Linked DNA regions of Homo sapiens. The protein of the gene in region 7 purifies or fractionates together with the protein of the main gene of each other region. This does not show direct contact. Each region holds a gene or a part of one and is shown on either strand. Other genes may lie near its edges.

What was found.
Region 1: the proteins of SLC22A2 (region 7) and PDK1 purify together in Homo sapiens (affinity purification with mass spectrometry; one large-scale study listed by BioGRID and IntAct). This does not show direct contact.
Region 2: the proteins of SLC22A2 (region 7) and ABCB8 purify together in Homo sapiens (affinity purification with mass spectrometry; one large-scale study listed by BioGRID and IntAct). This does not show direct contact.
Region 3: the proteins of SLC22A2 (region 7) and PTDSS2 purify together in Homo sapiens (affinity purification with mass spectrometry; one large-scale study listed by BioGRID and IntAct). This does not show direct contact.
Region 4: the proteins of SLC22A2 (region 7) and TMEM63B purify together in Homo sapiens (affinity purification with mass spectrometry; one large-scale study listed by BioGRID and IntAct). This does not show direct contact.
Region 5: the proteins of SLC22A2 (region 7) and ENPEP purify together in Homo sapiens (affinity purification with mass spectrometry; one large-scale study listed by BioGRID and IntAct). This does not show direct contact.
Region 6: the proteins of SLC22A2 (region 7) and SLC15A4 purify together in Homo sapiens (affinity purification with mass spectrometry; one large-scale study listed by BioGRID and IntAct). This does not show direct contact.

Annotation. Positions count from the first base shown.
Region 1 is NC_000002.12:172,562,590-172,566,089, forward strand, and holds part of PDK1 ([Pyruvate dehydrogenase (acetyl-transferring)] kinase isozyme 1, mitochondrial isoform 2 precursor), read left to right. Parts: intron 1-151; coding exon of another isoform or gene 152-211; intron 212-1,521; exon of another isoform or gene 1,522-1,541; intron 1,542-1,913; coding exon 1,914-2,098; intron 2,099-2,388; coding exon 2,389-2,484; intron 2,485-3,500. UniProt on the Homo sapiens protein: Kinase that plays a key role in regulation of glucose and fatty acid metabolism and homeostasis via phosphorylation of the pyruvate dehydrogenase subunits PDHA1 and PDHA2.
Region 2 is NC_000007.14:151,031,450-151,034,949, reverse strand, and holds part of ABCB8 (mitochondrial potassium channel ATP-binding subunit), read right to left. Parts: intron 1,346-3,500; coding exon 1,033-1,345; intron 678-1,032; coding exon 522-677; intron 446-521; coding exon 351-445; intron 227-350; coding exon 121-226; intron 1-120. UniProt on the Homo sapiens protein: ATP-binding subunit of the mitochondrial ATP-gated potassium channel (mitoK(ATP)). Together with pore-forming subunit CCDC51/MITOK of the mitoK(ATP) channel, mediates ATP-dependent potassium currents across the mitochondrial inner membrane.
Region 3 is NC_000011.10:484,779-488,278, forward strand, and holds part of PTDSS2 (phosphatidylserine synthase 2), read left to right. Parts: intron 1-2,112; coding exon of another isoform or gene 2,113-2,160; coding exon 2,161-2,295; intron 2,296-2,641; coding exon 2,642-2,692; intron 2,693-3,420; coding exon 3,421-3,500. UniProt on the Homo sapiens protein: Catalyzes a base-exchange reaction in which the polar head group of phosphatidylethanolamine (PE) or phosphatidylcholine (PC) is replaced by L-serine. Catalyzes the conversion of phosphatatidylethanolamine and does not act on phosphatidylcholine.
Region 4 is NC_000006.12:44,153,787-44,156,019, forward strand, and holds the end of TMEM63B (mechanosensitive cation channel TMEM63B), read left to right. Parts: coding exon 1-57; exon of another isoform or gene 58-191; intron 192-286; coding exon 287-402; intron 403-578; coding exon 579-659; intron 660-905; coding exon 906-1,097; 3' UTR 1,098-1,733; downstream 1,734-2,233. UniProt on the Homo sapiens protein: Mechanosensitive cation channel with low conductance and high activation threshold. Osmosensitive cation channel preferentially activated by hypotonic stress.
Region 5 is NC_000004.12:110,507,155-110,510,654, reverse strand, and holds part of ENPEP (glutamyl aminopeptidase), read right to left. Parts: intron 1,003-3,500; coding exon 848-1,002; intron 411-847; coding exon 297-410; intron 1-296. UniProt on the Homo sapiens protein: Regulates central hypertension through its calcium-modulated preference to cleave N-terminal acidic residues from peptides such as angiotensin II.
Region 6 is NC_000012.12:128,813,959-128,817,458, reverse strand, and holds part of SLC15A4 (solute carrier family 15 member 4), read left to right. Parts: exon of another isoform or gene 1-2,081; intron 2,082-2,388; coding exon 2,389-2,684; intron 2,685-3,500. UniProt on the Homo sapiens protein: Proton-coupled amino-acid transporter that mediates the transmembrane transport of L-histidine and some di- and tripeptides from inside the lysosome to the cytosol, and plays a key role in innate immune response.
Region 7 is NC_000006.12:160,256,022-160,260,052, forward strand, and holds the start of SLC22A2 (solute carrier family 22 member 2), read right to left. Parts: upstream 2,801-4,031; 5' UTR 2,737-2,800; coding exon 2,323-2,736; intron 697-2,322; coding exon 593-696; intron 1-592. UniProt on the Homo sapiens protein: Electrogenic voltage-dependent transporter that mediates the transport of a variety of organic cations such as endogenous bioactive amines, cationic drugs and xenobiotics. Functions as a Na(+)-independent, bidirectional uniporter.

The DNA.
Region 1 (3,500 bases), on a different chromosome or scaffold from region 7:
AGCCCCAGCTGATCTTTGCCATATGAAAATACTGCCCATATCATCTGATTGTTTTCTGATTTTAAAGGAAAGCTACAAGTCTAGATTTGTAATGTAAAATCTCTCACTTTTGAAAGATTGGTAACTAATTAAAACATTTTTTAAAACACAGAAGGCCTAGAAGAACATGGTTGCAGGTCTCTAGTTTATGCTGTATGGCCTGCAAGATGATGTAAGTAATATGACAATGTTAATAACCCATATACCAGAATTGGTAAACCAAAGTATTTGCCTTATGCAGCTACCTGCTTATTGCAGTGAAGGGTACTGAGAGTGTAATGACCATCTCTTGTCCTCAGTTAGTTACACATGTTTTTTGGACTGTCTTTAAAGTGAACAGTAACACTTCATTTTTTTAAACATGATTTTAATCTGAAAATAACTTCAGCAAGAGTTTACTCCTTGCTTAGGTATTGAGCAGACTTTACATGAATGATGTTTTTTAATCTTTAAAACAATTCATTGAAATAATGCTGTTTGTGCACAAAGAGGGTAAGTAGTTTAAGGTTACATAGTTAGCAAATGGTAGAATCCAAGCAGTCTTACTTTAAAAGTAAACATTATGTTATAGAGCCTTCTGAAAACAGTCATTCAGAGCTGTGGAAAATAAGTAGTCAAGCAGAATAATACAGATTTGTGTTTCTTTGAAGCAGAAAGAAAATAATAAAGGAGTGACTAGAATGATGAGTTGTTTGTTGTTTTTGAAGAGTTTTGTTGTTTGTATTTTAGTTTAACAGTCTTGTTTTGAAGCGCATTACTAACTAGGAATTCCAAAAATGTTTTAAGCAGTGGAAACATCATTGGAATAAGTTAATAGTACTCAGGATGATGACTTTGAATAGGAAAGCACTCATTTGGAAGTGTAAATTCAGATGGGTTATGTTAGAAAATTGGTTTCGTTACTGCATAATTAAGACTTCTTGGGCCGGGCACGGTGGCTCACGCCTGTAATCCCAGCACTTTGGGAGGCCGAGGCGGGCGGATCGTCTGAGGTCGGGAGTTCGAGACCAGCCTGACCAACATGGAGAAACCCTGTCTCTACTAAAAATACAAAATTAGCCAGGCATCATGGTACATGCCTATAATCCCGGCTACTCAGGAAGGCTGAGGCAGTAGAATCACTTGAACTCGGGAGGTGGAGGTTGCAGTGAGCCGAGATTGCGCCATTGCTCTCCAGCCTGGGCAACAAGAGCAAAATTCCATCTCAAAAAAAAAAAAGACTTATTTTCTCTTTTATTTAGTTATTTAACCATGCAGTGTCTTCTAAGTGACAGAGATGGGAAGACTAGATGATTTGAAGATTTGTCTTTTAATATAATTGTTTACTTTTCCTCTCCCATTTTATAAACTCATAGGATGAGTGAAATGAGAATTCTTTTCTGTTTTTCTGTCCTAAGTGTTTCCTTCTCTCTTTGAACCCTAGGGAATAGGTCCAAAACAGGCAGGCTTTATTGGCTCATTCATCTTGATTCCTTGCAGAGCAGAGCAGGTGTTCTCTAGAGGCAAGTGCTTTGTCTCCTCCTATGCAGAATGTCTCTGGAATACCATCCTCTTAGCCAGTGCTCAGATGACCTTAGTTGATAACAGTTAAAACCATTAACATTTTTTGGATTACGTTTTGTGGCAGCCTTACTCTTAGGAAGCCAAGAAAAGAATTAAATCTTGAAAGTTTTATTTTGGAGGTCTGTATACTTTCATAGATTTGGTATATTTTATGATCTGAAATACATTTAAATAAGTATAGGAAAACATGAACCGATTTTCCTTTTATTAAATTGGGGATTTTTTGTCTAGCATAGTTGGTTAAGCTTATATTTTTGTATTAAGTTTACTTGTCAAAATATTTGGCTGTTTTGACAGATGGGTTTGTTTAGCTTTACAGATACTGTGATACGGATCAGAAACCGACACAATGATGTCATTCCCACAATGGCCCAGGGTGTGATTGAATACAAGGAGAGCTTTGGGGTGGATCCTGTCACCAGCCAGAATGTTCAGTACTTTTTGGATCGATTCTACATGAGTCGCATTTCAATTAGAATGTTACTCAATCAGCACTGTAAGTGTCCCTCATGAGTCAAGAGAAGAAGCTAAATGAGATGTGTTGGCATATTTTAAATTTATTTAGGAAAGTTCCATTTAGGTAGGAAATTTAGTTTTACCTTTTGGCTAATTAAGAAAAATAAATAGACTGCCATCAAGAAAGGTGTTTTTATTGAATGTAAAATACTATGTTTATCCTAAAGGAAAATATTTGTTCTGTTTGGTACAATTTAAACAGTATTCAGATTTGGAAAAGAGCATTAGGTGGTTTAGCTTATTTTGTTGGTTTTTTTCCTTTTTGGATAGCTTTATTGTTTGGTGGAAAAGGCAAAGGAAGTCCATCTCATCGAAAACACATTGGAAGCATAAATCCAAACTGCAATGTACTTGAAGTTATTAAAGGTAAATACTGACATTTCTCCTTGCAAAAAAAGATACAAAAATCAAAATTATTGTTATTTCTTACTATTAAAACATCTATTTGTATCATGAGATAAAATGGTAGGCACAAATGCATGGGTTTGAAAATAACCTTATAGTATTATTTGTGCATTATGTATAGGATGACTATTTTATTGATAGAATTATTTGTTAGGCAAAGTTTGGTGATACTATAGAGGATATCTTTTTTGTTTTGTTTTGTTTTGTTTGAGACAGAGTCTCACTCTGTTGCCCAGGCTGGAGTGCAGTGGTGTGATCTCAGCTCACTGCAGCCTCTGCCTCCTGAGTTCAAGCGATTGTCTTGCCTCAGCCTCCCCAGTAGCCGGGATTACAGATGCTCAACACTACGCCTGGCTAATTTTTGTATCTTTAGTGCAGGCAGGGTTTTACCATGTTGGCCAGGCTGGTCTGGAACTCCTGCCTGCCTGCCTGCCTGCCTCGGCCTCCCAAAGAGCTGGGATTACAGGCGTGAGCCACCGAGCCCAGCTGAGGGTATCTTTCACTTAAAAAAGAATTGAAGTCCCTACTGCCCTGTTTCTAATTCTTACACTATGAGCAGTAATTCATAACAATTTGGTTTGAATCATTTCACACTTTTTTCTATTTATACCACTTGTACACATACACAATTGATGTTGGTCTTACATTGTTGTTTTTAGAAAATGGGGTGCTCTATGTTTTTTTCTACAAGTTTACAGACATCTTGCTGTTCAGTACATCTGGATATGCTCCAAGGTTTTGAATGGCTCTATGGAATGTATCAGTATGTGTTAATTAATTCTCCTGTTCATGCACACTTAGGTTGTTTTAATTTTTTTCTGTTACCACCAATACCAGCAGTACTGCTGTGAACATCCTTAAATACACGCTCACTTTTGCTAGTATTTTAGAGGTGAGATTCCTAGAATTAAAAACATTTAAATGCATATAAAATTTTGGTATCTCCAAAAAGGTTTCAAACAATGGATAAGAGTGTT
Region 2 (3,500 bases), on a different chromosome or scaffold from region 7:
TTCTCGAGTCAGCATGCGCCTGTCAGCCCAACATCAGGGCTGGGGCGGGCAGGGCTGGCCTGGTGAATCCACATGGGAAAGTGTGTGTGTGGACGTGGTGGGGGCCACTGGGCCACTGACCTGGGAGATGACAAGCTTGAAGGATGACTTAAACTCCTGCACGTCAGTTGTCAAGCGGCTCACCAGCTGCCCTGTCTTATTGGCGTCAAAGAAGGTGATGTCTTGTCTGGCATGGGACAAGAACCAATAAGGAGGGCAGAAGAGGGAGACATTACTTCAGGATAAGGTCCTACCCCCAGACCCCTCAGGCCATCAGTCACCCCAACTCTGCACCCTGCGGCTGGCAGTACCGGAGCAGGGAGCTGAAGAGGGCCCTCCGCATGTCCACAGCCATGCGCTCGCCAACGTGGGACAGCAGCACCAGGTACCCGAAGGTCAGCAGTCCCTGCGAAAGAGCCCAGTGCACTCAGGGATGCCTCGGGTGGCTCCTCGGCGGTCCCCAGCCCCACTCCCGGCTGTACCTGGACACCATAGAGGATAAGCAGGTGGGTGCTGAGATTCTGGGACTCAGTCATGAAACTCCCTACGTGGTCCCTTGTGTACTTGGCCACGACCTCTACCAGCTGGCCCAGGAGCAGGGGGATCTGTACATTCACGAGTGCCGCACCCAAGGCCAGCTGGAATGGGGAGACAGAGGGCACAAATGTTTTAAGTGGGGGAGCCACTCCTCCCCATCCCCAGCCAGATCTTGGCCCTTCCTCTCCCACTACTGAGCACTGCGCTTGTCCAGGTTGTGGCTGGTCATGTGGACACATCAGTGCCTCTCAGAGGTTCAAACCCTGGCTTCCAGTCCCCACGGAACCCTGCCCACCCAGCCACCCAGTGTTGATGCTCCTGGCACCCCTGGACCCCTGGCTAGCCCTTGCTGCTCCCCTGAGCTCTCCCCTGAGAGGCAGCGAGGCAGGAATGCCATCCCTTTGCAGCTCTGGGTCCTGCCCTGTCCCCAGGATGGAGAAGTGGGGAAAGCCTCACCACGACGGCTACCCCCAGGACCAGCAGGTGGGGGTGCAGAAACTGCCAGAAGAGCTTCCAGTTAAAGCGAGACCCCACGACATGGGGTGTGGAGCTGGCAGGAGGGGCCTCTTCTGCCTCACACAGGGCCACAAGGCAGAGGTGGGGATGCTTACTCAGTACCATGGGGCCTAGCAGGGCTCCCCCAACCCAGCACCAGGCAGAGGGGCTCCATCTGGGAGCTAGGGGGGCTCGAGGGAGGTGGGCCCAGAGCTGGGACCGCAGGTGGGCCACGGCCCGGAGGAGGGAGGAGCTGCGGTAGCCATCAGAGTACCTGTAAGGAGAGAGAGGCATGGATGGCTTGAGGCTCCGACTGCCCTCCTGCTGACCAGCACACCCATGGGGCTCTGGCTGAGCCCTCTGGAAGGAGCACTTCCTCTTCTGTCAGGCCCTTGCCCCTGCCCTTCTCAGGGCTGTTCTGAAGCAACTTCAGTTTCTAAGACATGTCCATGGGCAAAGTCGCAGAGGAATGAGGCACTGAGCACAAAATCTAGTCTTAAAAGTCTTATTCCCCTGGGCAACTCTCAGGCAACACCCAGCCAGCCAGGGCCCTCGCAGCCTCGACTCCAGGCTCTGACAGAATGACAGCCTGAAGAACTGGATGGCACGTTAGATGGCCACACACTGCCTGGACAGGAAGGGGCCGGGGGTTTAAGGGACCACGGTGCAGAGAGGTGAGGAAAGAGAGCTGCTCCTGTGCCCGGCACTGGACTTGCTCACAGCAGCCACCAGGGCAGACACAGCCCCACCTCCTGGAGCTAATGGGCTACTTCCCTTGATCCTCACCTCCCTGGGAGGGAGGTGCCATTATTCTCACCTGACAGATGAAAAAAATCATGTGGAGCTAAGAGAGCTGAAATAACTTGTCCGCAGGCAGCAGAACTGGGACGAGCAGGGAACCAAGTCTGCAGTCTGACTCCAGCACCCAGGCTGGCTCTACTCTGCCAGTGTGCCATGTCTTCTGATGTCCCAGGCCCATTACCCTACCTCCCCTCCCTGGCCTGGGGCGCCATGACACACACTCCCTCTCCACAGCTGAAGGAGGAAACAGAGAAAAATAAGAATTCTAATAACTTATCTTGTCATCTTGAATAGGACAATTACCTTCTCTTTCCTTCAGCTGCCACATCTATAAAATGCTAACATCGATTCCACTATTCTAGACATTGTGTTTTTTTTTTTTTTGAGACAGAGTCTCGCTCCGTCACCCCGGCTGGAGTGAAGCGGCACAATCTCGGCTCACTGCAACCTCTGCCTCCCGGGTTCAAGAGATTCTCCTGCCTCAGCCTCCTGAGCAGCTGGGACTACAGGCACGAGCCACCACGCCCAGCTAATTTTTGTATTTTTAGTAGAGATGGGGTTTCGCTTTATTGGCCAGGCTGGTCTTGAACTCCTGACCTCATGATCCACCTGCCTCAGCCTCCCAAAGTGCTGGGATTCCAGGTATGAGCCACCGTGCCTGGCCTATTCTACACATTTTGAACCTACTGTGTGCAGGTGCTCTGCTCGGAGTTATGGAGTTACATGACAGCTGAAGTAACTCCCCTCACAGCAGTCATGCTTGAGTGCGGGAGACTCACAGTTAACTGGAAATCAGAGGCACAAAACAGCTTGAAGCCCTGCTCCTCCTTCTCCTCAGAGGGAGTCAGGAAAGGCCTTCTAGGTAAGGGGGAACCTGTGAGGGGGAACAGGCCAGGCACAGGTGGGGGTGGAGTGTAAAGGGGAGAGCTCTAGGCAGAGGAAAAGCAAGTGCAGGTATCTCCAGTAAGAAAGGATGGGAGAGAAATTTCAGGAATTGTATGGCTGAAGCCTGACCTACAAGAAGGGAAAAGAGACATGAGACTTGCGGGAGGGGCAGTTTTCTAGTTCTTATAAAGCTCCTGGACTTGGGGGGCAATAAGGGTCATGGTGATTTTTAGGCCGAGATGTGCCAAGATTAGGTTTTCATTTTAAAGATCGTAGCATGGCCGGGCGCAGTGGCTCACGCCTGTAATCCCAACACTTTGGGAGGCTGAGGCGGGTGGATCATTTGAGGCCAGGAGTTCTAGATCAACATGTTGAAACCTTGTCTCTACTAAAAATTAGCTGGATGTGGTGGTGTGTGCCTGTGGTCCCAGCTACTTGGGAGGCTGAGGCAGAGAATCACTTGAACCTGGGAGGAGGAGGTCACAGCGAGCCAAGATCGTGCTACCGTACTCCAGCCTGGACAACAGAGCAAGACTCTGTCTTGAAAAAAAAAAAAAAGATCATAGCAGAGGGGCATGGGCTGGAGGCAGACAGGACTGGTTGTAGGGAGCAGAAGTTATCCAGCCAGGAGAGGATGGTGAGATCTAGAAGATCTAGATAAGCTTACTGATGGGGAAAGGTTTAAAAAAAGAGTAGTGTGAGCTTTTCTCTTTACCATCATGGCCTTTCACATCCCTAGACCC
Region 3 (3,500 bases), on a different chromosome or scaffold from region 7:
TGTGCGCAGGCGAGTGTAAACTGCACGGGCGCGTGTGCTCACCGTGTGCGCAGGCGAGTGTAAACAGTGCACGGGTGCGTGTGCTCACTGTGCGCAGGCGTCTGTAAACAGTGCACGGGCGTGTGTGTGCTCACTGCGCAGGCGAGTGTAAACTGCACGGGCGCGTGTGTGCTCACTGTGTGCGCAGGCGAGCGTAAACTGCACGGGCACGTGTGCTCACTGCGCAGGCGAGCGTAAACAGTGCACGGGCGCGTGTGTGCTCACTGTGTGCGCAGGCGAGTGTAAACTGCACGGGCACGTGTGCTTACTGTGCACAGGCGAGTGTAAACAGTGCACGGGCGCGTGTGCTCACTGTGTGCGCAGGCGAGTGTAAGTGCACGGGCGTGTGTGCTCACTGCGCAGGCGAGTGTAAACTGCACAGGCGCGTGTGTGCTCACTGTGCGCAGGCGAGTGTAAACTGCACGGGCGCGTGTGTGCTCACTGCGCAGGCGAGTTTAAACAGTGCACGGGCGCGTGTGTGCTCACTGTGTGCGCAGGCGAGTGTAAGTGCACGAGCGCGTGTGTGCTCACTGCGCAGGCGTCTGTAAACAGTGCATGGGCATGTGTGCTGTGTGTGTGCAGGCGACCGTAAACAGTGCACGGACGCGTGTGTGCTCACCGTGTGCGCAGGCGAGTGTAAACAGTGCACGGGTGTGTGTGCTCACTGTGCAGGCGAGTGTAAACTGCACAGGCGCGTGTGCTCACCGTGTGCGCAGGCGAGTGTAAACAGTGCACGGGCGCGTGTGCTCACCGTGTGCGCAGGCGTGTAAACTGCACGGGCGCGTGTGCTCACTGCGCAGGCGAGTGTAAACAGTGCACGGGCGCGTGTGTGCTCACTGTGCGCAGGCGAGTTTAAACAGCGCACGGGCGCGTGTGTGCTCACTGCGCAGGCGAGTGTAAACTGCACGGGCGCGTGTGCTCACTGCGCAGGCGAGCGTAAACAGTGCACGGGCGCGCGTGTGCTCACCGTGCGCGCAGGCGAGCGTAAACAGTGCACGGGCGCGCGTGTGCTCACCGTGCGCGCAGGCGAGCGTAAACAGTGCACGGGCGCGCGTGTGCTCACCGTGCGCGCAGGCGAGCGTAAACAGTGCACGGGCGCGCGTGTGCTCACCGTGCGCGCAGGCGAGCGTAAACAGTGCACGGGCGCGCGTGTGCTCACCGTGCGCGCAGGCGAGCGTAAGCAGTGCACGGGCGCGCGTGCTCACCGTGTGCGCAGGCGAGTGTAAACAGTGCACGGGCGTGTGTGTTCACCGTGTGCGCAGGCGAGTGTAAACACAGCTGGTGCCCTGGTGCGTGTGTGCTGTGAGCACAGGTGTCTGTAAATGATGTAAACCTCCCTTGACGTCAGGCCCAAAAGCCTGCCTTGCCCTAAGGTCAAGAGGTGTATCTGGCTGATGCCAGCGTCTGGGTGAGGAAAGAGCAGGTTCCACAAGGGCGACTCCTGTGAGGGTGTTGGCCTGAGCGCGCATGCGGGGAGGGGTCGGGGTGGGGGCGGCGCGCCGCAGTAACTCAGGGCCCCATCCCGCTCCCGTCTGTCCAGCGGTCCTAGACCCCCATGTCCTGAAGCGCACCTGTGCCCACCTGGCCCCGGGGAGCGCAGGTGTGGAGATGGGGTGTCGTGCCTGGGGGTTCCTTCCCCACGCGCTGCCCCACCAGGATTTCCCTGGGGTGGGGAGGGCTGCTGAGACAGGGCGCTGCCCTCCTCCAGGGTGACTGAGATGCAGTTTACAACCATGATCTCCTGGCCGGGCGTGGTGGCTCACGGCTGTAATCCCAGCTCTTTGGGAGGCCGAAGTGGGCGGATCACGAGGTCAGGAGATCAAGACCATCCTGGCTAGCACGGTGAAACCCCGTCTCTACTAAAAATACAAAAAAAAAATACTAGCCGGGCGTGGTGGCGGGCGCCTGTAGTCCCAGCTACTCGGGAGGCTGAGGCAGGAGAATGGCGTGAACCCAGGAGGCGGAGCTTGCAGTGAGCCCAGTTCACGCCACTGCATTCCAGCCTGGGCGACAGAGCGAGACTCCATCTCAAAAAAATAAAATAAATAAACAACCATGATCTCCCGTTTCAAGTTGCCACCACTAACTGTAGCCCCGCTGACGGGGGCACTGGCCTTGCAGACTGTCCAGGACGGCCGGCAGTTTCTAAAGTATGTTGACCCCAAGCTGGGAGTCCCACTGCCAGAGAGAGACTACGGGGGAAACTGCCTCATCTACGACCCAGACAATGAGACTGACCCCTTTCACAACATCTGGGTAAGACGCCGGGGGCCCTGAGGCGAGCCCCTCCCCAGGTGTGGCCCCGTGCCGGACCAGGCGCCATCCACGCTCCTGCCTCGCACCCCTCAGCCCACACTTGGGGTCTCCTGGTGCAGAGATGTGCTGAGGCCCTGTCCGTCTGGATGGTGCTCATGGTGGGCAGGGGGCCCCTGCTCTCTAGGCTGTCGTGGACGTGGTCTCCACAGGCCACGGCAGCACCTGTGAGTCCCTGGCCTTCTTCCCGGGGTCTGGCAGGTGCTGCTCAGGTGTGGGCTGATCTGCCGGTGTGGGGAGTGGGGGTGGCTGTGCCCCAGGGTCAAGGGTCATACCCTGTCGCCCACAGGACAAGTTGGATGGCTTTGTTCCCGCGCACTTTCTTGGCTGGTACCTGAAGGTACGGCACCTCCTCTTCCCGGCCTCCCCGCCCCGGTTCTGAGGCCTGCCGTGGGCTCTGGACCGTTTCTGTCCATGGAGTTGAGCTCAGGGTGCTCTGAGTGTGGTGGGAGGGTGTCGCACTGCAGCCACCCAGAGGTTCGAGAAGCCGTGGGGCTCCCGGACCTCCCAGAAGCCCTGATCCTGGTCGGGTCCCCGCTCCGTCCTCAGGGTCGGGGCGGTGGAAAGAGGCGGCAGGGCAGGAAGTCCCGCCCCTGCCTGGGCTTGGGCACTGCCCCATCCCACTTCTGAGGGACCCTGTGCTACCTATGGGGCTAAGAGCAGTGCCTGCTTGACCCTGCAGCCCACCCTGGCAGAGTTTGGTGTCAGGCCCCGGGCACGGGGATGCTGCCTTGTTTGCTGACAGTCGTACATCGAGGCTGCTGGAGGGGCAGCCACCCACCCCACGCTCACCCTGAGACCTCACTGGGGGCCCTGCCAGTGCTGTCGACTCCAAGAATGCTGCCAGCCGGGGTGGGGGCTGCACGCACCCGTGGGCAGGGCCGGGCGTGGCCTGCGTCCCATACTCTGGCTGCCAGCCGGGTGGGGGCTGCACGCACCCGTGGGCAGGGCCGGGCGTGGCCGGCGTCCCATACTCTGGCTGCCAGCCGGGGTGGGGGCTGCACGCACCCGTGGGCAGGGCCGGGTGTGGCCGGCGTCCCATACTCTGGCTGACCCTGGCGCCCACAGACCCTGATGATCCGAGACTGGTGGATGTGCATGATCATCAGCGTGATGTTCGAGTTCCTGGAGTACAGCCTGGAGCACCA
Region 4 (2,233 bases), about 120 Mb from region 7:
TGGCCGCGCCCATCCTCTGCCTCTTCTGGCTGCTCTTCTTTTCCACCATGCGCACGGGTGAGGGATCCCTACCCAGGGAACGGGGGGTGGCGAGCAGAGTGGATTCCAGCCAGAGCAGGCCACAGGAGAAGCCGCATGGCTGGGGGTGGCAGGCAAGGGGCCTGGGAGAGGCTGGGGCCAGTCTGTAGCACCTGGGAGAGTGAGGACTGCATTCAGAGGGTATCAGAAGCTGGGGTGGGGAGGCCCACAGGAGATAGCAACCCCATTCTTTGCCCCCCAACACCAGGGTTCCTAGCTCCCACGTCTATGTTCACATTTGTGGTCCTGGTCATCACCATCGTCATCTGTCTCTGCCACGTCTGCTTTGGACACTTCAAATACCTCAGTGCCCACAACTACAAGGTGTGGGGCAAGGGTGGCAGGCGGATGGCTGCGGGCAGGAGCTCAAGGGGAGGAATGCAGAGGGCCACAGGGCTGGCGAGGGCTGAGGGCAGCGCCAACAGGGCCAAGCGGGCGTGGGGTCATGATCAGGGCTGAGGACATGCCCCCACTTCCTGACTCATTCTGGGCCCCTCAAGATTGAGCACACGGAGACAGATACTGTGGACCCCAGAAGCAATGGACGGCCCCCCACTGCTGCTGCTGTCCCCAAATCTGCGGTGAGTGCCCTCAAGGGTTGGGAGGGGCCTCTGACAGACTCAGCCTCAAAGCCCAGTGTTCCCTTAGTCCTGCAGAAAGGGGAACCTGTGCCAGACCCCATGGGGGCGGGAAGAGAGCTGGTCTCCCTGGAGGGCTGCCCCCGCCCCCCAGGGCCCTGCCCACTCTGCTGTCCTACATGCCCTGGTGTTCCCGCAATCCATGAGGGGCAGCTGTTCACCTTGCCCCCATTTCCTCTCCTCCTTCAGAAATACATCGCTCAGGTGCTGCAGGACTCAGAGGTGGACGGGGATGGGGATGGGGCTCCTGGGAGCTCAGGGGATGAGCCCCCATCATCCTCATCCCAAGATGAGGAGTTGCTGATGCCACCCGACGCCCTCACGGACACAGACTTCCAGTCTTGCGAGGACAGCCTCATAGAGAATGAGATTCACCAGTAAGGGGAGGGAGGGGCCCTGGAGGCCACATCCTGCCCCACCCCACCCCCACTCCCACGGACACTAAAACGCTAATAATTTATTAGATCTAAAGCCCCTTCCTCCCCAGCCCCTGCTTTCATTAAGGTATTTAAACTTGGGGGTTTCACTGCTCTCCCCCATGATGGAGGGAGGGAGCCCCCCAACCTCAGTGAGGAGAGCCCCGAGCCGGCCCCGGGGCAAAGAGGGGTGCAGAGGGAGTTCCCCCAGATCAGTACCCCCCACCCCTCCCCAGCTAGTAGCATGACCAGGAGAGGGTTAATGAGAGCCAAGAGGAGTACCTGGTGCACCTGGTGCCGGTGGCTGGAGACCTGGGGGGCAGGTGGATCTGGGGCTGTTCCCCCCCCTCCGTTTTTTCCACCCCACAGTTCCTCCTGGGATCTGGCCCTCCAGGGAAGTGGAGCCTCCAGCCCCTAGGGGATGCATGAGGGGGGAGGGGGTGCTGAGTGGGAGGAAGAGTCAGGCTCACAGCTGGGGTGGCCTGGGGGTGGGGGTGGGCAAGGCTGACACTGGAAAATGGGTTTTTGCACTGTTTTTTTTTTGGTTTTTTTGTTCTTTTTTGTTTTTTTCCTTTAAAATAAAAACAAAGAAAAGCTCTGAGGCAGGTGTCTGACTTGTGCTGCCCTGGGCACCTGGGCCGGGTCCCCACCCTCCTATCTGGAGGGCCTCTTTGAGGTCCCTGCATGACGCTGGGCAAGGGACTTGTTCAGAGTCTCATTTCTGTGTCACTGAGAGGAGAGAGTGGGGCTGGGGAGAGACTTAAGGGATATCTCAGAGGCAGGAAGGGCCCCTGTGCCCAGGTGGCCACCATACCAGCCTCGCCCACTCTGATCATTCCCCTGAGTCCCTGAGCAACACACATGGGACAGAGATTCAGGGAGAAAAGGTCGTGCAAAGCCACAGGGTCCATGCTGGGCCAGGACGAAGGCCCTTCTGAGCACCTCAAAGTAAGCCTGGCGCCAGCCCATCTGTCCCTTCCCCAGGAGGGCCTGATCTCCTCAATGAGAAGCCCCCTCCCACCCTCCAGTCAAATCTTACCCATTCTCCAAGACCCAGCTCAAATTCACCTTCTCGCCAGGCGCGGTGGCTCACGCCTGTAA
Region 5 (3,500 bases), on a different chromosome or scaffold from region 7:
ACAGAGTTAACATTTTCTATGCCACCTGTTTTTTTTTTTTTTTTCCTGCCTTGATAATGTGTTTTGAGTGACTCTGTCAAGGATATCCCCAGATTGTGATGATCAGCTGCCCTTCTAGGTACTGGGGCAAGGTGTAGTCAGTGGAAGTCAGCTGGCTCCACCCTATCCTCACAGTGGAATTCCCCGCTCACCACTGTACTTGCCATCTGACTCGGGACCATTATCATAGTCCAAAGGCTTCCATCTGCTTTGCATGAGGAAAAGAGAGATTTCAAGTTTATGTGTTTAGGACTCACCATTTGCCAGTCTGTTTCTGCATGGTTTACTCCCAGAAACTCAAAGAAAGAAGCAAATCCTTCATTTAGCCACAAGTCTTCCCACCAGTCCATGGTCACAATATTTCCAAACCACTGAAATTATAAGCAATAAAGAGATAATTACATTCTTATGGGTATGGTAGAGAGGCCTAGAAAATGTCAAAACATTTATTTGTCCGTGCCAATGTTGTCACTGTGACAGAAGTGGCAGGCATTGTACTTAACATTTATTTCCTGCTTTATTCTGATTATTTAAATGATATTAAATTGTCTTTAGTTTATTGCCTTTATTTAGTTATTACTGGGGTACATAAATTTATATGAAGGCCTCGTGCATATTTCCTAAAGGCAAAACAATGTGGTTCAAAGTCTCTTTATGGCTAAATGTTTATTAGTACCAAGAAAGATTTTCATGCAAGTTTTTCTGAGTTGGCTATTTTTTATTTGCTAAGTCATAAATAATTTGAATTATTCCTGTGGTCTTAAGCCACTTTAAAAAAACAAGCTGATTCAGTGCTAAGATTCTGTACCTGATGCACAAGTTCATGGGCAACCACAGTGGCCACCCTCTGTTGGTTTGATGAGGCTGATTCCTTAGGGTCATAAAGCAGGTTCGTTTCTCTGTACGTGATGAGTCCCCAGTTCTCCATGGCACCAGTGCCAAAATCTGGAATAGCGATTTTATCTATAGAAGAAGAAAGAGTCCAGTGAGAAATACATTCTTTCCATTTGTTCATAGCTTTTCTTACCAAATTAAGTTATTTGGATGAATGTTTTTTAAAAGCCTAAAAATAATTTCTTAGAGTAAAGAACTGTAATCATGTGTGCGAACATTTCAGTCCTAATGCACTCAAAGTTTCCATAGAGCATTCCCTGCTGGCTCCAGATATCAATGCTTTGTTTTTGTTTTAAAGAAGGACACTAATGGCAATGCCTCTATAATTTTATGTCTTTTGTTTCTCTCTGTATTTCATTTTTATTAGCTACATGTGTTTTAGGGGATAAGCCGTGAGGAAAAAGAGAAGTTTTCAAATTAGTATTTAGAAGTTCTGAGCTTCCAAGTGTATAGATACAGTTTTCCATCCAAAGACACAGATTATTCAAGAATATAAAACTCCATTTTTCTCTAATTCTATAAAATATTGATAGAAATACCAATCTAATAGCTTATCATCCGCTTTTATGTATTAAATTGGTTGGAGAAACATGGAGTTGACTATATTCTCTCTAGATTCCCTTACAGTTCTAAAATGTTGGACAGGAGTTTCTATAGTCTTACACATAATATCTGACAGGAGGAGGCAGTGTTGATCAGTTCTATGTTAAATCCCAAGACAGAAAATGCTCAGATGATTAGTGGCCAAAATACAGCTTCCCCAGTTAATGAACTGTAAACAGAATGTAATTTCTTTATTATTATGTATAATTTAAATGAGGCACAGAAATGAAAACAAATTGATTTTTCACTTAACATATAAGAGAAGGCCCTTTCTTTCTGGTTAAAATAAATATTCTTTCTTTTTTTTTGAGACAGAGTCTCGCTCTGTTGCCCAAACTGGAGGGCAGTGGTGCGATCTCGGCTCACTGCAAGCTCTGCCTCCTGGGTTCACGCCATTCTCCAGCCTCGGCCTCCTGAGTAGCTGGGACTACAGGCGCCCGCCACCGCGCCTGGCTAATTTTTTGAATTTTTAGTAGAGACGGGGATTCACCGTGTTAGCCAGGATGGTCTCCATCTCCTGACCTCGTGATCCACCCGCCTCGGCCTCCCAAAGTGCTGGGATTACAGGCGTGAGCCACCGCACCCAGCCAAAATAAATATTCTTAGAGCTTTTTATAAAAGAATGAAGAGGGATGTATCTTAAGTAGAGGTCAAGATTACAATAGTAGTTTCCTTTTCATGTTATCTCATTTTTAGGTTTGGTTATTTTATCACAAGACAGTCATTTCAAAAGTAGAGAAGTATCTCCCCCAAGGGCCAATATTTTTCATAATGTTGTGGAGTGCAGTTTGCACTTAATCCTTGAACAAAAGGAATTTTTTGCAATCTCATTTTTTTTTTTTTTTTTTTGGTCAGTACTGGCATTGTAACTAACTAATTCTTGTATATTTAACTCTTTGGAGTCTAATAAATGCAGAAGTCACCTCTAAGGAGTCTAAGATATAATTAATTCTGAGAGGGTTGAAAATGCACATAAAACAGAATAAAGGAGTTGGGGAGAGGGAGAAAGAAAGAGAGGAGAAGAGAGTAATAAATTTGTGAGATTTCCACTTCTCAGGTTATCCTGGGTGCTACAACTGAGATAAAAGGCAAAGGATCTTTAAATTCATGTGTACAATATTTTATTAAATATTATTCTGATATTTTTAAATTGAGATGAGGTCTTCTGTCACCTAGACTGCAGTGACACAATCATGGCTCACTGCAGCCTCAACCTCCTGGGCTCAAGTGATCCTCCCACCTCAGCCTCCTGAGTAGCTGAGACTACAGGTGTGTGCCACAACACCTGGCTAATTTTTGTATTTCTTGTAGCGATGGGGTTTCACCATGTTGCCAGGCTGGTCTTGAACCTCTGGGCTCAAGCGATCCGCCCGCCTGGGCCTCCCAAAATGTTGGGATTACAGGCGTGAGCCACTGCACCTGGCCCAATATTCTGATTTTGATGAAAACTTGTTTCTTTTTCCAGCTCCTTCTCTAACATTTGTTAAGCAATCAAAAAATAGAATTGTATCCATTGAAGAGACATGCAGCATCTACAAGCTTGCTCTGAGCCACAGCCATTCCCATGCAGAGAATTTTGCATTCCCCTTGTGTGCATTGATAAGTTATTAAAGTAAAGGCAGAAACAGATACAGGGAGGCCAACTGTTGGCTAATTTGTTTTCTTACTGCCTTCATTTCATCCCTACAAACATCTATATGGGTGTTATATTTAAAGTCTTTGTTAATAGCTCTCGAGCTTATTAATAAAGCATTTCCACTATTGATAGAAATGTCATATGCACACCATTTTGGTTGTAGCCCCACTTTTGCTTTATGAAGAATGCATGTCTCCCTCTGTATTAGAAAAAATTATTGCTGGAAGGAGCACCAGTATTTCATTAAACTGCTGGGGAATCTAGAATTTGCCTTGTACAACAATGGAAAGACTGGAAGCACATGGGGCTCTTACAACATCATTTATCC
Region 6 (3,500 bases), on a different chromosome or scaffold from region 7:
TAAGTTTATATACTATGTTTACTGGCCTCTTTTATGCTTGTCAAAAAATTACTTTTTGTTTGTTATTTTTTCGCACTTCTAGTTTTGTTTTCTCAGTAACCATTTCTCTGCTCACATTTTTCATTTTTCTTCCTGGTCCATGTCTAGTATAGCATGAGAATTGGTGTCCACTGTTGAGCAATATTTAAATGCATTGTGTCCTAGTGAAGAAGTGTCTTAGATGTCTGTGAAGTTCTCACCTCAAACTCTTTATTCAGTAGAGATGTCTGCATTTGGTCTAGGACCTCTGTTCAGTATTGTAATAGATAAGAGAAAAGTTTAAACTCTTGAGAATAAGTGATTTTCTTTTAAATTTAGATTTTTCGTTTGAAGTGGTGTTACTATATATAATTAATTACCTGCCACCATAGTGGCCATGCTTAATCATTTGGACTTCAAACAAATCTCTTTTTGAGGAGCACACAATTTTTTTTCTTTTGCTCTATTTCCTTTAGAGAGGAACACACAATTTTAACTATAAATTTTACTCCTCTGATTTAATCTTTAAAAAATAGAGTTTAAAATACCATATCAAATATATGACTGCTAAAAAGATGCATGTGCTTATTACATACCATATCTTTTTTTTTCTTTTGAGACAGGGCCTCTGTCGCTTAGGCAGGAGTGCAGTGGTGCCATCACAGCTCACTGCCACCTCCTCCCCAGTTCAAGGGATCCTCCCACCTCAGTCTCGCAGGTAGCTGGGACTGTAGGCGCACACCACCGCACCTGGCTGATGTTTGTAATTTTTTGTAGAGATGGGGGTCTGTCTGTGTTCCCAGGCTGCTCTCAAACTCCTAGACCCAAGCGGTCTGCCTGCCCTGGCTTCCCAAAGTGCTGGGATTCCAGACCTGAGCCACCATGCCCAACCGTAATTGGTTGTTTTGGCCCCATTGAGAATGTGTTATTCAGTAGAGCAGATTGTTCTATGGATCCAGAAACTAGATCTATTATTAGAATAAGAATTTTCTAACTCTTTCATAACCTGTGACTTAAGAATGAGACAGTAGAAGTTTTTAAGACAGCAAGAGAGTCTTTTTATGAGATCCAGTATCAGCCTCTCATAAGTTTGTTAAAAATAAATTTATGAAATGAAACTCACTAGAAATGTCTCTGTCTAGTACAGGGTTCATTTGCACAGTATCTTATTTAGACGTAAAAATCCAGGTGGGCAGAGAAGGCTTCTGGTGTGTCTGCCCCCAAATGACCTGTTCCCACCGCTTGGGCTCCATTGAAGTAGCCTCGTGAACTCCATAAGCCTAGATGTTGCGTTATTACCTCAGTGCTTTTGTTTGAGTCCAGGAAGTCAGTGATTTTTGAGCCTTTTGGAAATCCCACCCTTATCAGAATTTCTCCGATTCCATTGATAGCCTGTCTAATCTAAAAATAGCATGTGGTTTTATCTTTAGTCTATAATTTCCTCTTTGCTTCAAGTTTACTGAGATCTCTGATTCTCAGGAGACCAGATACAATTGGTGTGGGTGGTGACTTGGCCTCACTGAACAAATGTCTCTCTTTGGGGCCTAAGCATATTTGTGGGGTGCCTCATGGTACTTGCATGTAGCTCAGTAAGGCATGGAGCTTTATAACATTGGTTCTAAAACTTACCTGTGAGTAGAAGTCACCTGGGAAGTTGCTTGAAATGCAGATTCCTGGGCCTGGGCCCCAGAGACCGTGATTCAGTAGGTCTGGAGCGTGGGTCCTGTGACTGTGTTTGTTTTTTGTTTGTTTGTTTGTTTGAGATGGAGTTTCACTCTTGTCAACCAGGTACAGTGGCACAGTCTCGGTTCACTGCAACCTCCATGTCCTGGATTCAAGCGATTCTCCTGCCTCAGCCTCCCAAGTAGCTGGGATTACAGGTGCCCACCACCATGCCTGGCTAATTTTTGTATTTTTAGTAGAGACGGTGTTTCACCATGTTGGCCAGGCTGGTCTCGAACTCCATACCTCAAGTGATCCACACGCCTCAGCCTCCCAAAGTGCTAGGATTATAGGCGTGAGCCACCATGCCCAGCGGACTCTGTTTTTAAAGAGCATTCCAGGTAATTCCAAGGCAAGTGGTTCAGGTACTTAGAAAATTCTACAGCAGAATATACTTGGAAAAACTCTCTAGCATTTGTTGGAATTTAGTGTAATTAAGTGAAACCTACCTAGCAACTGTAGTAATTAAAAGCGTGGGGTGTGCTTTTTGTTGAGATCCGTGAATGTTTCTGTAAACACAATTTTGATTGTGTTGCGCTTCTTAAAGGTTGTGATGACAACGGTAATTTTAACCACTTGACCGTATATGGTTTTCATCCTTGAAGACTGTCATATATTTTCAAGTGTCTTTCCTCCCTGTTATTTTAGGTTAAAGATCGAGGTCCGGAAGCCACTAGGAGATTTTTTAATTGGTTTTATTGGAGCATTAACCTGGGAGCGATCCTGTCGTTAGGTGGCATTGCCTATATTCAGCAGAACGTCAGCTTTGTCACTGGTTATGCGATCCCCACTGTCTGCGTCGGCCTTGCTTTTGTGGTCTTCCTCTGTGGCCAGAGCGTTTTCATCACCAAGCCTCCTGATGGCAGTGCCTTCACCGACATGTTCAAGATACTGACGTATTCCTGCTGTTCCCAGAAGCGAAGTGGAGAGCGCCAGAGTAATGGGTAAGCACTTAGTTCTCATCTTGGGCTGTTTGAAAGGACTTTATCGATCTCTTTATTAACATCCTAGCTTCGGTTTGTTGTGTGCTTATTGTGTGCTGGGCCTGGGCTGAGTGGTTTACATGTCTTCTCTCCTTTAACACTGCATTTCCCCAAGGAGGCGGGTGCGGTCTTATTATCCCATCTTAAAGACAGGCCAGTGGCCTGATTCCAGAGCTCATGCTTTAACCCCACGTTGCACTTTCTCTCACTGCTAGTGTAGACGGAAGCTCCTTTGGTGCCAGATTATAAAGGTAGAAATTTGTGGAGGACATCGAGGAGACAGAAGACATGCTTTATACATGTTTCTTTTTATTTTAAAAAGCTTTGAAATACATTTGAATGAAAAACTAAGCAGTTGCTTATGCTGTCAGTACCTGTCTCTGCTCTTTAAAAAGTAAGCCACTGCCTCTTACCTAAAGGTCAGCATGGGCTCCATCATACAGCGGTCAGGTCCATCATACGGCGGTCAGGTCCATCATACAGCGGTCAGGTCCATCATACGGCGGTCAGGTCCATCATACGGCGGTCAGGTCCATCATACGGCGGTCAGGTCTGTAACTCTTGACAGGAAGGTGCAGTAGCAGAATGGCGAGATGCACTGAGGGTAACCAGATGATCTCATGGGACTTACCCAGTGTTAGCACCAAAGTCCCATGAACTGAGGTGTTAAAACAGAAAGGCCTGTGTCCTCAGAACCCCTCCAAGTCACTGGCCAACTATGACTCATGTTTGGTGATGTTGGATGCCAGTTAATAAAGTCCAGAACTTAAGCCCAAG
Region 7 (4,031 bases):
AGGGACAATGATATTGCAGAGGTGGACATTTACCCCTCGTGTTGTAGGCAGACCCTGTTTCCCTTTCTTTAAGTTATGGCTTCCACATATATGGTCATATATGGCCCCAGGAACCCAATTCAGGACTCTTGCAATCCCACGGGTATTAGGGAGATTCTACATTGGGCCTGGTGCTGGGGGCTCCCAGCATATGCGAGACAAGCAGAGGATAGGATTGAGCTCAGAGGCCCTGAAGGCTGATGGCCAGGTGGATGGTGATGAGGCCAAAAAATGAATTGGGAATTACAAAAGGGATGAGATCATCTGTTACTCTCCCTTCCGACTTGAAGCTTCTGCATAGCCCCCATGGAAGATTTGCTGTGTAATGTTGAAATATCTGTCTATGACCCCAGAGAATTTGAAAATAAAGACATTGGTCATGGTTATCCAAGCAGCAGAAGAAATTTAAGATTGTAAAAACACCAGCATGAAGGCCAGGAGATTGTGGTCTGTGTGCTTGGGAAAGGATGGGATTCAAGCAGGGGCAGGTGCATCCAAGTGTTCTCCAAACCTTTGGGATTGTTTAAATTCCACCACAGGTGATTCAACCTACCTGTCTGCTATGTAGCCGATACTCATAGAGCCAATAAAGAATCCTACATTCACTGATGACTGGAATAGGTCCAACATCCAGGAGTTGGCACATACCAGGTTAAACTGCCAGCAGGGGAGAAGTGTTCCAAGTTGGGAGAGAAAGGAAATGAAATCCTGTTAGAATCCTGTTGGACATAACTCAGCTAGGGTACTCATTAAATATTCCTTGAATTGAACTGTATAGTTAAGTGGCAATAAGCCATTGTTTCTTGATCATGCCAATTTTCTTCTTCTTCTCTCTCTCTCTCTTTTTTTTTTTTTTTTGTGAGACAGGGTCTTGCTCTGTCACCCAGGCTGGAGTACAGTGGTGATCATGGCTCACTGCAGCCTCGACCTCCTGGGCTCATGTGATCCTCACACCTCAGCCTCCCAAAATGCTGGCATTATAGGCGTGAGCCACTGTGCCCAGCCTCAGTTTTCTTTACATAACCAAAAGGCTTGCCCTTCCATCTGGCAATTTGTCATGAAGCTAAAACTACAGCATTGGCTAAATCAGCTGAAACTGGGTAATTACTTATAGACAAATTTATTTTTTCCTTTCTAATTTCAATGCACATGCAGATAGGTGTGTGGACGTGATACAATGCAGGCACCAGGAGGTTGGGCCATTTAGCATCTCCCTGCTGTCTGTTTAATAAAAGGGGATTAGGAGTGACTGCTGAAGGCTGCTGCATTTGCTCTTATTTGGAATAAGAGGAGGTGGTCGGGTGGAGCAGGTGCTGGACCAGGTCAGGAGACCCATCTTTTAGGGCTAACCCTGCTAAGTTATTCACTGTGTGGCCTGGGGAAAAACCTTCTCTGCTTGGGGCCTCAGTTTCCTCATCTCTGTAGGAAGCAATGAGATTGGCCATGTGAGAGAGCCTCGGAGAGTTTGTGGTGTGAAGCCCATGAGCTGCCACATTTCCTGTAAATATCTGACCACTTTAGACCCTTCAAATTAGACTCTACCTACCCATCTGTTCACACAGAATATCTTCCCATTGTCCAAGCAGTCATTTTAAATTAAACTAGGCAACTGGCTCTCTCAGTATTTTCAGGTAACTTAATTCCCCTATTTTGCTTTGCTTTCAATAAAAGCAAGCTCCATTTTTTGTCTTTTTTTCTATTATATTTATTGGAATCAGGCTTCACAAATAGCTTTTGATGTCATCTGTAGTTTTTAACAAAATAATAGTGCCATAGCATGATCTCCAGCCCCAAATGATTTTATATGAACACTTTGAGGAAATTAAAGAGAAAAAATAGGTATCGAGAGAAAAGCACATCCTATCACACAGTCAGGCACAGTTCAGTTGAGTTCCACGGGCTTTCAGGTGTGTGTGGGCATCTGCGGGATGGAGGAATAGAGGGGGAGGTAAGGCTTCCAGAAAAAGAGGAGGATCCACAATATCCCTATCTTGGCAACATTTCCAGGAGTCCTAATATGCTTTGGCCTGTTCCTTATTGCTGGGACATGCACAAACTAGAATCATTATTGTCAGCATCTGAGGACGTTTTAACTAATCCAGTTATTCTCCAGACAAATTAGAAGCTGCATGTTCTCATTTGGAAACTAGGATTTTGTAAGATACATGCAGGCCAAAGAGATGTCCAGGCAGGGTTTATAAGAGCCGGGCCTTCCCTGCTTGCTTCCTTGAGAAAATCTCCACCATTTGCTTCTCCATCTGAGCCCTGAGCTCACTCTCTTACCTCGGTGACGATGGACGAGCCAGGCGTCTCGTACACCCAGCCGTCCCGGCAGGGGCCCAGTGGCAGGCGGCTCCTGTTGGTGTCCAGGCTGGCCAGGGGGTCCACGCAGTCGAAGGTGCTCTGGTTCCAGTCCACCTCGTAGCGCCTACACTGTCTTGGGGAGGCTTCGCCCGCAGGTCCTGGGCCCGGCACCGTGTAGTTCAGTTCCTCTGCAGGACTCCAGCCGCAGCGCAGACTCAGCTCGGCCACTCCGGGGCTCCGGCAGCGGTGGTCAGGGGTGAAGCCCAGGAAGACGATGCCCACGTAGATGGGCGCGAAGGTAGCCGAGAGCAGAGCCAAGAGGAAAAACATTTGCTTCTGGAAAAAGTGAAACTCCCCTCCATGCTCCAGGACATCGTCCACGGTGGTGGGCATGATCCTGCAGGCAGGAGGGCCCGAGGCTGCCCGACGTGCCCGGAGCGAGGCTGAGAGCGGCTGCAGCCAGCTCAGCACAAACCCTGGCCAGAAGTCAAAGAGGGGAGTTTACCTCTGCAAGTGACCAGCCTTCAGGGCAGGGCCTTTCCTTGGTCCAGCTGACTTCAAAGGTGCACCCCTCCAGCGGGGGTGCATGTCCTTCTGCACTTCCCAAATGCCCTGAGCTCACTCCCAGGATGCCTGTCGTGTTTATTATAACTGGTTCTCCACAGGCTTGTCGGTGCTCCACGCCAGCAGCACAAACAACCCGCCCTCTGTGTCCCACCGCAGGGAATCTGAGTGCTGGCCCATATCACAGCCCAGTAATCTTCCCGTAGTGCCCCGAGCAGCCAGGAACTTAATATACTCCTATCTCATGCGCACCGCCAGCTTTTCTTCAAGGCCCTATGGAGAAAACACACGTGTTTGGCCACAAGGCCCAGCGTGATGTGAACCAGGATCCGTGTCAGAACCCTGGTCCAGATTCGAAGTGGGTTGCAAGCCTGACTGCTGGGCTCATTCTCCAACCAACAACAAGAGCCGTCGGGATGCATGCTGGGGCTGCTTGTTTTGATGTTGTCCAGATTTTATAACTCTGCTTTTAAAAAGTGTTTGCTCCAATCTGGTATTCCTGCGTTTCAACCCTGAAGTGTCCTTCCCCTTAACCCATCTGGAGGGAAAGAGGAAAGTGTTTACGTCGCAGACAGGTCAAGTGTAAATGCAGGCAGGTGTGTCCAAGCCACTATCTTTGTGTCCTAGATTTTTCTGTCAAGGTCTGTTGGGGCTCAGAAATCCATGCCCCAAGGTGGAGGCCTCAGAAGCAAAGTCTCTCTCTCTGACCTTCTCCTGCCCTCCTGTCTCTTCTCTCACCCATCATTCTCCCCCGGGGCAAGCCATAGAACTGAGAATCCTTCTTCCTCAAAGCAGCTCGTGGAAACCAGACTCTTTTCTCCCCAAAGCCAGCCAGAAAGCCTAGAAATACCACTGTAACTTCCCCGCTGCCTTTCTGTGTAACAGTGGGCCGTAAAGAAATCCAGACCCGCATTCCAGAGGAGTCTTGTCCCCGGTGCCTGGAGGAAGGAGTGCTGCACAGAGGGGCCAAGACGGATCTGAACAGACAGGCCTTGCTGGGTTTTCCCCTCAGCCTGCGAACATGGGCTGCTGCCCTTTTTGTCCAACTACAGTTCTATACTGCCATCCAGTTTTCCCTGTATCTGTGGGTCTTCATTCTGAATGAAGGCTCCTGTGTCATGTAA